Homo sapiens: one gene and its partners. The protein of the gene in region 1 interacts with the protein of each later gene in a pairwise test. Each region holds a gene or a part of one and is shown on either strand. Other genes may lie near its edges. The genes, in order: FOXD4L6, PLG and ARG2.

Evidence for each region.
Region 2: the proteins of FOXD4L6 (region 1) and PLG interact in binary tests that used the Homo sapiens proteins (3 or more experiments, as listed by UniProt).
Region 3: the proteins of FOXD4L6 (region 1) and ARG2 interact in binary tests that used the Homo sapiens proteins (3 or more experiments, as listed by UniProt).

Annotation. Positions count from the first base shown.
Region 1 is NC_000009.12:41,126,552-41,130,303, reverse strand, and holds the start of FOXD4L6 (forkhead box protein D4-like 6), read left to right. Parts: upstream 1-1,622; 5' UTR 1,623-1,920; coding exon 1,921-3,174; 3' UTR 3,175-3,752.
Region 2 is NC_000006.12:160,708,614-160,712,265, forward strand, and holds part of PLG (plasminogen isoform 1 precursor), read left to right. Parts: intron 1-2,463; coding exon 2,464-2,578; coding exon of another isoform or gene 2,579-2,582; exon of another isoform or gene 2,583-3,259; intron 3,260-3,652. UniProt on the Homo sapiens protein: Plasmin dissolves the fibrin of blood clots and acts as a proteolytic factor in a variety of other processes including embryonic development, tissue remodeling, tumor invasion, and inflammation. In ovulation, weakens the walls of the Graafian follicle.
Region 3 is NC_000014.9:67,622,890-67,626,541, reverse strand, and holds part of ARG2 (arginase-2, mitochondrial precursor), read right to left. Parts: intron 676-3,652; exon of another isoform or gene 1-675. UniProt on the Homo sapiens protein: May play a role in the regulation of extra-urea cycle arginine metabolism and also in down-regulation of nitric oxide synthesis. Extrahepatic arginase functions to regulate L-arginine bioavailability to nitric oxid synthase (NOS).

The DNA of each region.
Region 1 (3,752 bases):
CGTGGCATAGTATCTTACTTAGTATTTTAATAAGATTCTTATTTATATAACAAATTTTTTTTATTCCTCTGTAGTGCTACTTTAGTCTCTGAGCTAATTTTCATGAAGCCAATCTAAAAATCGTGTTACTTCTAAGGATGTGGAGGGAGTGAGATGAACAGTTGTGCTGTCATATTGCCCCTCCCCAGTGCAGATAGTGAATGAGGACCCACTGATTTAAAGGCAACACTGCAGCCCCTTCTTGCCTCATTGAAGTCCCAAGTTTTATTACAGTAAAAGCACTTAATGTTGACATTTCTGAAAGAATGAAGAGGCTGGGCATGGCGGCTCACGCCGGTAATCCCAGCACTTTAGGAGGCTGAGGCAAGCGGATCATGAGGTCAGGACATCGAGACCATCCTGGCTAACACGGTGAAACCCCGTCTCTACTAAAAATATTAGCCAGGCGTGGTGGCGAGCGCCTGTAGTCCCATCTACTTGGGAGGCTGAGGCAGGAGAATGGCGTGAACCCAGGAGGCGGAGCTTGCAGTGAGCTGAGATCGCCCCACTGCACTCCAGCCTGGGCGACAGAGCGACTCCGTCTCAAAAAAAAAAAAAGAAAAAAAAAAAAAAGAATGAAGAGCCAGAGCCAGGCATAGTGGCACGCCTGTAGTCCCACCTACTCAGGAGGCTGAGGCGGGAGGATCACTTGAGCCCAGGAATTCAAAGCCAGCCTGCGCAACATAGACCCTGTCTCTAAAAATGAATTGGTTATAAAGGATGAAGAAAGGAAGGAGGAAAGGGAGAGAGAGAAGCCCTTATAGAGTGGGTGCATTTCTTGTATGTGGGGCCACTTTGTAAGAACAGGATTTTTCAAACTGGGCCCATACTGGTATGTGTGAAATCAATTTAGTTGGTTATGGCCATTTTTTTTTAAAAGGAAATATCAGTGATCACTATAGTGTAAGTATATTGTTTCGTGAAACCCATCTTAGTTATGTATTATGTCTGTATGTGTGAGATTGTGATATAAAATGTATTTCTGTGGTTAAATATTCAAAGAAATTGGAGAACCATTGCTACAAGGGGACAGAGGACTCCGTGTGAGCTCTCCTGCCTTCCCTGAGTAAACTTACACAATTTAGTGCTGGGACATTTGAGCCTTTTCTGAAAATTTGAGTCAGGGAGAGCATCTTGAGGAGGTGGGAAGGAAGGTAGAAGGAGCAAAGCAACACCCCCCTGAAGCCTGGGAATATTGTCAGAACCTTAAATATAATTCAGCTCACCATTCTGGGTAAGGGCAGACTCTACCAATGAAAATGGGTGATTACCAGCTGTGAAACACAAAAACATACTTTTACGGTTACACATTCCTTTACAAACAACCGTGTACATTTCAGCCTCCTGCCCCACCATTTCTTTTCTCCAGGCGGGAAGGCTGCATGTTGAGGTGGTCATAGAATGTTGAGTATCATACTTTCCTACCTCGCTTTTATTTGCGCGGGTTTAAATGCGCCTTAACAGAACCCGTGCAAAGGCTTGCCAACTGTCTGGCTGCACCGGATGAGTAGAGCATCTTCCTTGGTGGCAGGTGGGTGCGAGGAGGAGGGGGCTGGGCTTTTCTCCGGACGGGTGTTTGCCCAGAAGACCATCATCCCTGGACTACGTTAGGAGGAAGTGGCACCGCTCCGAGGTAGGGGAAGAAGGGTTATAAAGGGGGGAGTCCACCACACATGGTCTTGAAGAAGCTTTTATAAAAGGCAAAGGCATCTTTGCCGGACGTTGTTGCAAAGGAGTAGAAACAAGCAGACGAAAACATCCCAAAGGGTAACCACTAGCGTTCCTGCTTCTTGCAACATTCATCCCAGGCTTCCAGCTCAGCCCGCCCCAGGCTAGGTGATCGGTCGCCACATCCCCTGCGACTGAAGCACCTGCTCCTCCATGAACCTGCCAAGAGCTGAGCGCCTTCGCTCCACACCGCAGCGCAGCCTCCGGGACTCCGATGGGGAAGACGGTAAAATCGATGTCCTGGGAGAGGAGGAAGATGAAGACGAGGTGGAAGACGAGGAGGAGGCGGCGAGCCAGCAGTTCCTAGAGCAGTCGCTCCAGCCGGGGCTGCAGGTGGCCCGGTGGGGCGGGGTTGCGCTTCCCCGAGAGCACATCGAGGGCGGCGGCGGCCCGAGCGACCCCTCAGAGTTTGGCACCAAGTTCAGGGCACCGCCAAGGTCTGCGGCGGCCTCTGAAGATGCCCGGCAGCCGGCAAAGCCCCCCTACTCGTACATCGCGCTCATCACCATGGCCATCCTGCAAAACCCGCACAAGCGCCTCACGCTCAGCGGCATCTGCGCCTTCATTAGTGGCCGCTTCCCCTACTACCGCCGCAAGTTCCCCGCCTGGCAGAACAGCATCCGCCACAACCTCTCGCTGAACGACTGCTTCGTTAAGATCCCCCGCGAGCCGGGCCACCCAGGCAAGGGCAACTACTGGAGCCTGGACCCCGCCTCCCAAGACATGTTCGACAATGGCAGCTTTCTCCGGCGTAGGAAGCGTTTCAAGCGCCACCAACTGACCCCGGGAGCCCACCTGCCCCACCCCTTCCCTCTACCTGCTGCACACGCCGCCCTGCACAACCCCCACCCAGGCCCTCTGCTTGGGGCCCCTGCCCCGCCGCAGCCAGTCCCGGGGGCCTACCCCAACACCGCCCCCGGGAGACGCCCTTACGCTCTGCTGCACCCGCATCCTCTTCGCTACCTACTGCTCTCGGCCCCCGTCTATGCCGGGGCACCGAAGAAAGCAGAAGGCGCGGCCCTGGCGACCCCGGCACCCTTCCCGTGCTGCAGCCCTCACTTGGTCCTCAGCCTTGGGAGGAGGGCAAGGGTCTGGCGTCGCCACCGGGAGGCGGATGCATCTCTTTCAGCATTGAGAGTATTATGCAAGGGGTCAGGGGAGCGGGTACAGGGGCTGCGCAGAGTTTGTCCCCGACCGCGTGGAGCTACTGCCACCTGCTCCAGCGACCATCAAGCCTGTTGCATCCCCAGACCGCTGCCCCTTTGCTGCAAGTGTCCGCCGCCGCCGCTGCTCGGACAATTTTGCAGCAATAGCAGCAGCATCAGGAGGAGGACTGCGCCAACGGCTGCGCTCCCACCAAGGGCGCGGTGCTGGGCGGGCACCTGTCGGCCTCGTCGGCCCTGCTGAGGTATCAGGCAGTGGCAGAGGGCTCTAGGCTGACATCGCTGGCTGCCCCTTTGGGCGGAGAGGGGACCTCACCAGTTTTTTTAGTATCGCCCACGCCCAGTTCCCTGGCCAACTCCGCAGGGCCCTCCTAGAGCCAGGTGGGAGTGGGGAGCGACCCGCAGCTGCTCACTTCACCTTGCGCGGCCCATTCAGGGCGTGTGCATCTGAATCCCGCTGGAGAGCAAACACGAACTTCTGTTCGCTGCAAAATGGTTAGAAAGAAACAGCTGGATTACGTTCCTCTAAAAACCACCTGAACGTAACCTTCGCAGGGCGTCAAGTCATCTTTTCTTGCCTTCGGTTGTGGCTTCTATGGCTGTCCCGATTTGCGCATTTCCTGGGGTACTATGAACGTGAGTGGGGTATTTTGTTCTGGCATTAAAAGAAAAACAAGCAAGCAAACAAAAACACAGCCTCCGATGCCAAACATGTTCCCCCTTCTTCACTTCCTTGGAGCTGGAAGTATTATTCCTAAGTCTAGTGCAAAATGCTTCTACTCTCTGTGTCTTCCTGATAGGGATGTTTAATGTAAGTAGGAT
Region 2 (3,652 bases), on another chromosome or scaffold:
ATAGTAACAATTTAGCTCTCCAAACATTCTGCATCCCAGGTGTTAAAGAGGACTGGAAACACCTTAGTTCTTGTATTCTTGAGGATGATTTGCCATATTGTGTCTAGTATTACGGCAAAACTCTAAGTAGCATTTTAAATAGTATTTATTTGGGTTGGAATTATTTCTATGCATTGACTCATCTTCCTGGGTTTCATTAGCTGTACGCATTGTACTTCCTTCCTTACCACTATTTATCTCGAATTCTTGAGATTAAAGTGCAGATTAAATCTAAACTTTATCTGGTGAAGTTATTAGTTCTTACAAGTAGCAAGCAAACGGTAAACTAAATAGGATCACCTAATTGTACCAGATTTTAAAAAAAAAAAACCCTGATTCTCCTGATTCTCTCTACAAAATGCTAACATTTAAATATGTCATTTGTAAATTGTTAACCAGAAGGAACATGGGAATGACTGTAGGTTGAGTTTGAAGTCTGAAGTTTGAAGGCTTAGTTTGCTTGTTTTCAAAGTGACAGAAGGGAGCAAAAGGTTATATAAACTCTGATGGGTACATACAAAAAAAAAAGAAGTGAAAAGTCAAAAGTCAGTCATTTTTTGGTCCTTGTTTCTTTGCTGTGGGATATTGACCTGCTACTAACTTACCTGCCAGGGTTTTGCCAGGAACAGTCAGTGTTAGATCACATTTACTTCTGCCACTTGCCACCAGCCACACTGCCTTCACCAAGTCCAAGACCCTATCACCACTGGTTGGGGCTACTTGTAGCTGTACACATGATCTCTAAGAAATGTAACTTCCCTGTTTAAAGCCCTTCCTAGTGCCCTTAAAATAAGACCCAAAGACTTCCCAAATGTGCTAGGGCCCAGCATTATTTAAGTAACCCCCAGCTGCTGTTTGCTTGGCTTGCTAAACTTTTCTACACTGGCCTTACTTCTGTTCCTTCACCACCCCAAGCACACACCCTCCTGCCTGGGACCCTCTTCACCTTTGTCCTGCTGTGCCAGCTCCTTCTTATCTCCTAGGTGTCAGCTCAATCATCATGTCCTTTGCAAATCTTCCTTGACCCCTAGACCTCCCTTTCACAAAGTACCTTGAGTTTACACTTTTGATGAGTGTCTTATGTCTACTGTAATACTATGTCCCAATGAAGATGTACTTGCAATCATAATACGCAGTATTGGGTTAAAAGCATTAGTTTGCTGTAGGTATGTTAGGAGCACTTTCCCCATGTGATTGATCAATTAATTAAAAAATGGCTAAAGTGGGTAACCTTAAATGATGGTGTAAATATACCTTAAACATTTTATATTTTCATTGAAAACACAAGTGTACTTGACACCTTTTGACGTAGAGCAGAGGCTTTTCTTCTTCGAATATGGGGTCACCAGTAGAAGGTCTCTGGTGTATTTCCTGCATAAACTATGCTCCAGTGCAACATCTACAATAATTACTTTCCTTATTTTTGAAGTGGACCATATCTCGACATTTATTAATCAATCTGAATGTGTAAAACCTTTAGATTTTTATGAATTCCTCCTCAAGCTTTATAGTCAACTATATGAGTGGATTGCCCTCTGTGGATTTGATAGCAATTTTTTAAATGATTCATGTTTCAACTTGTTAAAAACATTTAATTTAGTTAAAAACCAAACAAAAAAGAGCTTTGTTTCTTTTCACATTCATTTCTCAGTTTAGATCATCTTTAATTAAATATAAATGTAAGAAAGTTGGAAAATGCAAAGAAATGACTCGTTGTAAGCACATAACTCACGTGGGGGGAACAGACATGGGTGGGCACACTAGCAAACACCTGCCAGCTGCATGTGGACCCAGGTGGGCACCGGACTGTTTTAAACACAGGAGAGGGCCCGTTGTCTAACTGGTGAGTTGGTTGAGTGGAAGCTGGTTGAGAACTTTTACTGCAAACCATTTACAGTAGACCACAATTTTATAGCCCTGTTTGGCACTTTTTCATATCACTGGGAGCCTGAAGAAATAGAAGTGGGTTGGATCTCTTTCAGCCTCTGAAAAGCCTGCCATTCCCCCATCTAAAAAGCCCTTTCCCCATTCTCTCACTCTGTCTCATCATGTATGTAATATGTATCATCATTAAGTGATCTCATTTTATATTGTTTCCTTGAATATTTCCTGTAACCCCCCTGCCTGATTCCACTAGAATGTAAGCTCCATGACGGCCAAGCCTCTGGCTGCACTGTGCCCCGTGTGTCCCCAGCATCCTGGTGGGGCTCGATACACAGAGAGCTCATAAGTAGCATTTGAATACATGAATCAAAGAATGGCTCAGTTTACTGCAGCCTTTTTGCAGATGCAAAAGATGATCTTTTAGAAAGCAGAAACAGGGGGTCTGGTGCATGAGATCTTTTTCTCAACGTGACTATGCTGTGCAGACCTTCATGTGGTGTCTTGTGAAAGACTTTGACCACTGTGTGGACTTCCCTTCAGTGTATCTCTCAGAGTGCAAGACTGGGAATGGAAAGAACTACAGAGGGACGATGTCCAAAACAAAAAATGGCATCACCTGTCAAAAATGGAGTTCCACTTCTCCCCACAGACCTAGGTAAGACATTCCCTTTCATCTTTGTGTTCATCTACTGTAAAGTTGTCCCTCTGTGTCTGTGAGGGATTGGTTCCAGGACCCCTGTGGCTACCAAAATCCATGCTTCTCAAGTCCCTTATATAAAATGGTGCAGTATTTGCATATAACCTACATACCTTCTCTTGTATAATCCCTAATATAATGTAAATGCTATTTAATCGTTGTTATACTGTATTGTTTTTATTTGTATTATGTTTTATTGTCATATTGTTATTTTCTGTCATCTTTTTCAAGTCTTTTCCATCCACAGTTGGTTGAATTTGTGGATCTGGAACCCATGGATACAGAGGGCCAACTGTATTTAGGATAATTTCATCACTTTTAATTCAAACCACAATATGTGAATAAGCAGATAGAAAGAATCTTTTTGATGTCGATGTTCAACTATTTTTGGCACCATAGTAGAACATGGTTGCTTTCTATTTTTTCTTGGATATGGAGGTTTCTTGAAGACCTAGAACATAGAAGAATGCCTAGTTTAAAAAAAATCAATGAAACTATGAGTTTTAGGCCAAATCTGAGAAAAGATCAAAGATGACTATGTTTGGGACTGAAGTAAGCATATCAGGTTAGAACTCTCATCACATGTTCGACTCAAATTGTGGAGCAAAAGAGTAAATAAGATATAAAAATGAAAATGAAGATACGTGAAATTCAAATGTTGCAACTTGCCTATTATTTATTTTAGTGCATTTTTTTGTACTTTTCCCAGTTTGGTGTTAGGTGGCATTAAGTTCTCAGTAATGACGCTTATCAAATAGGAACTTAGTGCTTGTTACTCACCTTTATCCATTCCCCCAACACTCAACAAATTGCCTTTGCTATATCCCTATGAGATGAGCAGATCAAATATTCCCCGTGAGTTAATGAAAACTGATTCAACCAAATGGCAAAGTCAGAGACTATCGGGGGCCATGGAGACACTCTGGGCCATTTTTATGAGGTAGTCTAGGCTCATCTTTATGAGGGAACTGAGGTCTCGGGGGGTGGGGGTTATCCCAAATAGGTTCACAGAAGAACCAGAAATAAAACCTG
Region 3 (3,652 bases), on another chromosome or scaffold:
GACTGTCTAAAAAAAAAAGTTTGTGTGAATATATGTTTTGAATTCTGTTAGGTATATACATAGGAATGGATTTGCTTGAGGACACAGTAACTATACATTTAACTTTGAGGATCTGCCAAACTGTTTTCCAAAGTGGCTGCAGTTTTACATTCACACCAGTAGTGTATGACAGGTCGAATCTTTTTACACCCTCACCAATACTTGGTATTGTCTATCTTTTTTATCATAGCCATCCTAGTGGGTGTGAAATGGTATTTCATTGTAGTTTTGTGGTTTTTTTTTTCCCCTGAGACAGAGTCTCACTCTGTTGCCCAGGCTGGAGTGCAGTGGTACAATCTCTGCTCACTGCAACCTCCACCTCCTAGGTTCAAGTGATTCTCCCACCTCAGCCTCCTGAGTAGCTGGGACTACAGGAGTGTGCCACCACATCCGGCTAATTTTTGTATTTTTTAGTAGAGACGGAGTTTCACCATGTTGATCAGGCTGGTTTGAACTCCTGACCTGAAATGATCTGCCCGCCTCAGCCTCCCAAAGTACTGGGATTACAGGTGTAAGCCGCCACACCCGGCCATTGTAGTTTTAAATTTGCATTTCCGTAATGACTAATGTGTTTACTGCCCATTTGTATAACTTCTTTGGAGAAGTGGCTAATTAAATCTATTGCTAATTTTTAAATTTGGTTGTCTTTTTACGGTTGTTATTTTATTTATGTTTGCCGAACACTAGAATCTTATCAGGTATATGATTTGCAAATATTTTGCCAATTCTATGGGCAGTCTTTTTACCTTTTCTCTTTTTTTTTTTTGGTTTTTCATTACATTGATGAAGTCTTTCCAGTTTCTTTTTTTTTTTTTTTTTTTTGAGATGGAGTTTTGCTCTCGTTGCCCAGGCTGGACTGCAATGGCACAATCTCGGCTCATCACAACCTCCGCCTCCCAGGTTCAAGCAATTCTCCTGCCTCAGCCTCCCGAGTAGTTGGGATTACAGGCATGCACCACCATGCCCGGCTAATTTTTTTTTGTATTTTTAGTAGAGATGGGGTTTCTCCATGTTGAGGCTGGTCTCGAACTCCTGACCTCAGGTGATCCGCCTGCCTCAGCCTCCCAAAGTGCTGGGATTACAGGCGTGAGCCACCGTGCCTGGCCCCCACTTTCTTAATAGTGCTCTTTGAAACATAGATGTATTTAATTTAGCTAAGTCAAGTTTAATTTTTGTCACTTATGATTTTGATGGGATAGCTAAGAAACCAATACCTAACCCAAGGTCGCAAAAATCCAGTCCTATGTTCTCTAACAGTTATATGGTTTCAGCATTACATTTAGGACTTTGGTCCATTTTGAGTTAATTTTCATATATGGTGTGAGATAGGGATTTTTTTTTTTTTAATGTGGATATCCAGTTATCCCAGCACCATTTACTGAAGACTATTCTTTCCTTACTGACTTGTGTTGGTCAAATAAAGACAGCCTTGTGAATGGACAATTTTAGGAAACCATCAGACCAGTCAAATGACAATTTTCTGGGGATGGTCTATGAGGAGTATCACCTCTGTTCTCCCTTTTGCAGTAACTGCCAGCCTCCTGGTTTCACTGTGATTGCAGGCTATCGGTTGTCCAGGCTACAGCTGATCTGGGAAAAGGCAGCATGGGAACAGGGCAAGTTAAAATGCCACAATTCTTAATGTTCTTACTGAGATTCAATGTTTTTCTTGAATAAATGCTCCCCAGATTGCTGCAAGCCTTTGGTTAATTTCCAGAGTTCTGAAAAAGCTGATTCTGATCATTTTTGCCAATGTTCTTGATATGGTTTGGCTCTGTGTTCCCATCCAAATCTCATGTTGAATTTTAATCCCCAATGTTGGAGGTCTGGCCTGGTGGGAGGTGATTGGATCATGGGGGTTGTTCCTAATGGTTCAGCACCATCTCCCTAGTGCTGTCTCATGATAGAGTTCTCATGAGATCCGGTTAAAAGTGTGTATCACCTCCCTCTTCGCTGTCTTCCTCCTGCTCCTGCCATATAAGACGTGCTTGCTTCCCCTTCACCTTCCGCCATGATTATAATTCTCCTGGGGCCTCCCCAGAAGCAGAAGCCTGTATGTCCTGCAGAACCATGAGTCAATTAAACCTCTTTTCTTTTTAAATTACCCAGTCTCAGGTATGTCTTTACAAAAGTACAAGAACAGACTAATACAGTTCTCATTCCTTTTTTGGAGGTCCTATGCCACCATTTTCAATGGTGTCACTATACAGTATTTTAAAACAACACAGATTTCCCATTAAAGTGCAAATTTCTGGCTTTTCTTGAAAAACTGGAGAAAAGAGTACAAGGCCCACTCCTTCTCACATGGTAACAGGTGGCTAGAATTCACAAATTACCATGGTTCTCAGAGCTAACCAAAATCGAGTGCAGATATACTGCTCCTCAGCCTTGCCAGAGCAATGCCTTTTCATTTCTCTTAGGCCCTCTTAAGCCCAGGAGTTCGGGACCAGCCTGGGCAACATAGTGAGACCCCGGCTCTACAAAAGAAAAAAAAATTATCCAGGCATACTGGCATGTGTCTGTAGTCCCAGCTACTCAAGAGGCTAAAGTGGGAGGATCGCTTGAGTCCAGGAGGTTGAGATTGCAGTAGGCTGTGACTATGCCACTGCACTCCAGCCTGAGTGACAGAGTGAGACCCTCTCTCAAAGAAAAATAAAAGGTGGCTGGGAGCAGTGGCTCACTCTTGTAATCCCAGCACTTTGGGAGGCCTAGATGGGCAGATCACCTGAGGTCAGGAGTTCGAGATCAGCCTGGCCAACATGGTGAAACCCCATCTCTACTAAAAATACAAAAATTAGTCAGGCGCAGTGGCAGGCACCTGTAATCCCAGCTACTTTGGAGGTTGAGGCAGGAGAATTGCTTGAACCCGGGAGGCGGAGGTTGCAGTGAGCCAAGATCGCATCACTGTACTCCAGCCTGGTGACAGAGCGAGACTCCGTCTCAAAAAAAAAAAAAAAAAAAAAAAAAAGGTTACCTGAGAGTACTGTTGAGTGTCCTTACTAAGCCCAAGGAAATAAAACAAGCCCAGACACTAAGTCAAATACATTCATTCGAGAGAAAACAGGAAATTTAACTCATGCTATGGTAACACCGGCAGCCTGTGACATCAGAGCAAAGGCAAGGAACAAAGGGATTGTGAAAGTTACCTTTCCATGAGTCTCTCCTTTGAAATTTGATCCATGCTGTTTATTTGAAAGTGTTCAAAACACTCAAGTTATTTTGGTACTGTTTAGGAACAGAGCAACTGAAATGTCTCTTGGTACTTTTCTCCAATATATTCCAGGAGATTAGCCAAAACCACATGCTAGAAATCTGCTGAGAGCCACAGTTTTATTTAATAGGCTATGAGATTCTATTTCAGACTGCTGGTGATACTGAGCTACCAGTCAGCTACACAGTAAGGATATAATTGTACAATTAAATATATTTGAGAAAAAAAGTCAAAGGGAAGGCCATATAAACTGAAGCCTCACCATCACTTTAGGTTGGAGTTTAAAGAGGGAGTAATATTTACAGGAGAATGGCTTCCCCTGGGTTGGAGTGGAAAAATACCAAGAGCTGTGACAGGAAAGGAAGTCTACAAAGCATGAGTAAGAGAAGCTGCTACAAATGT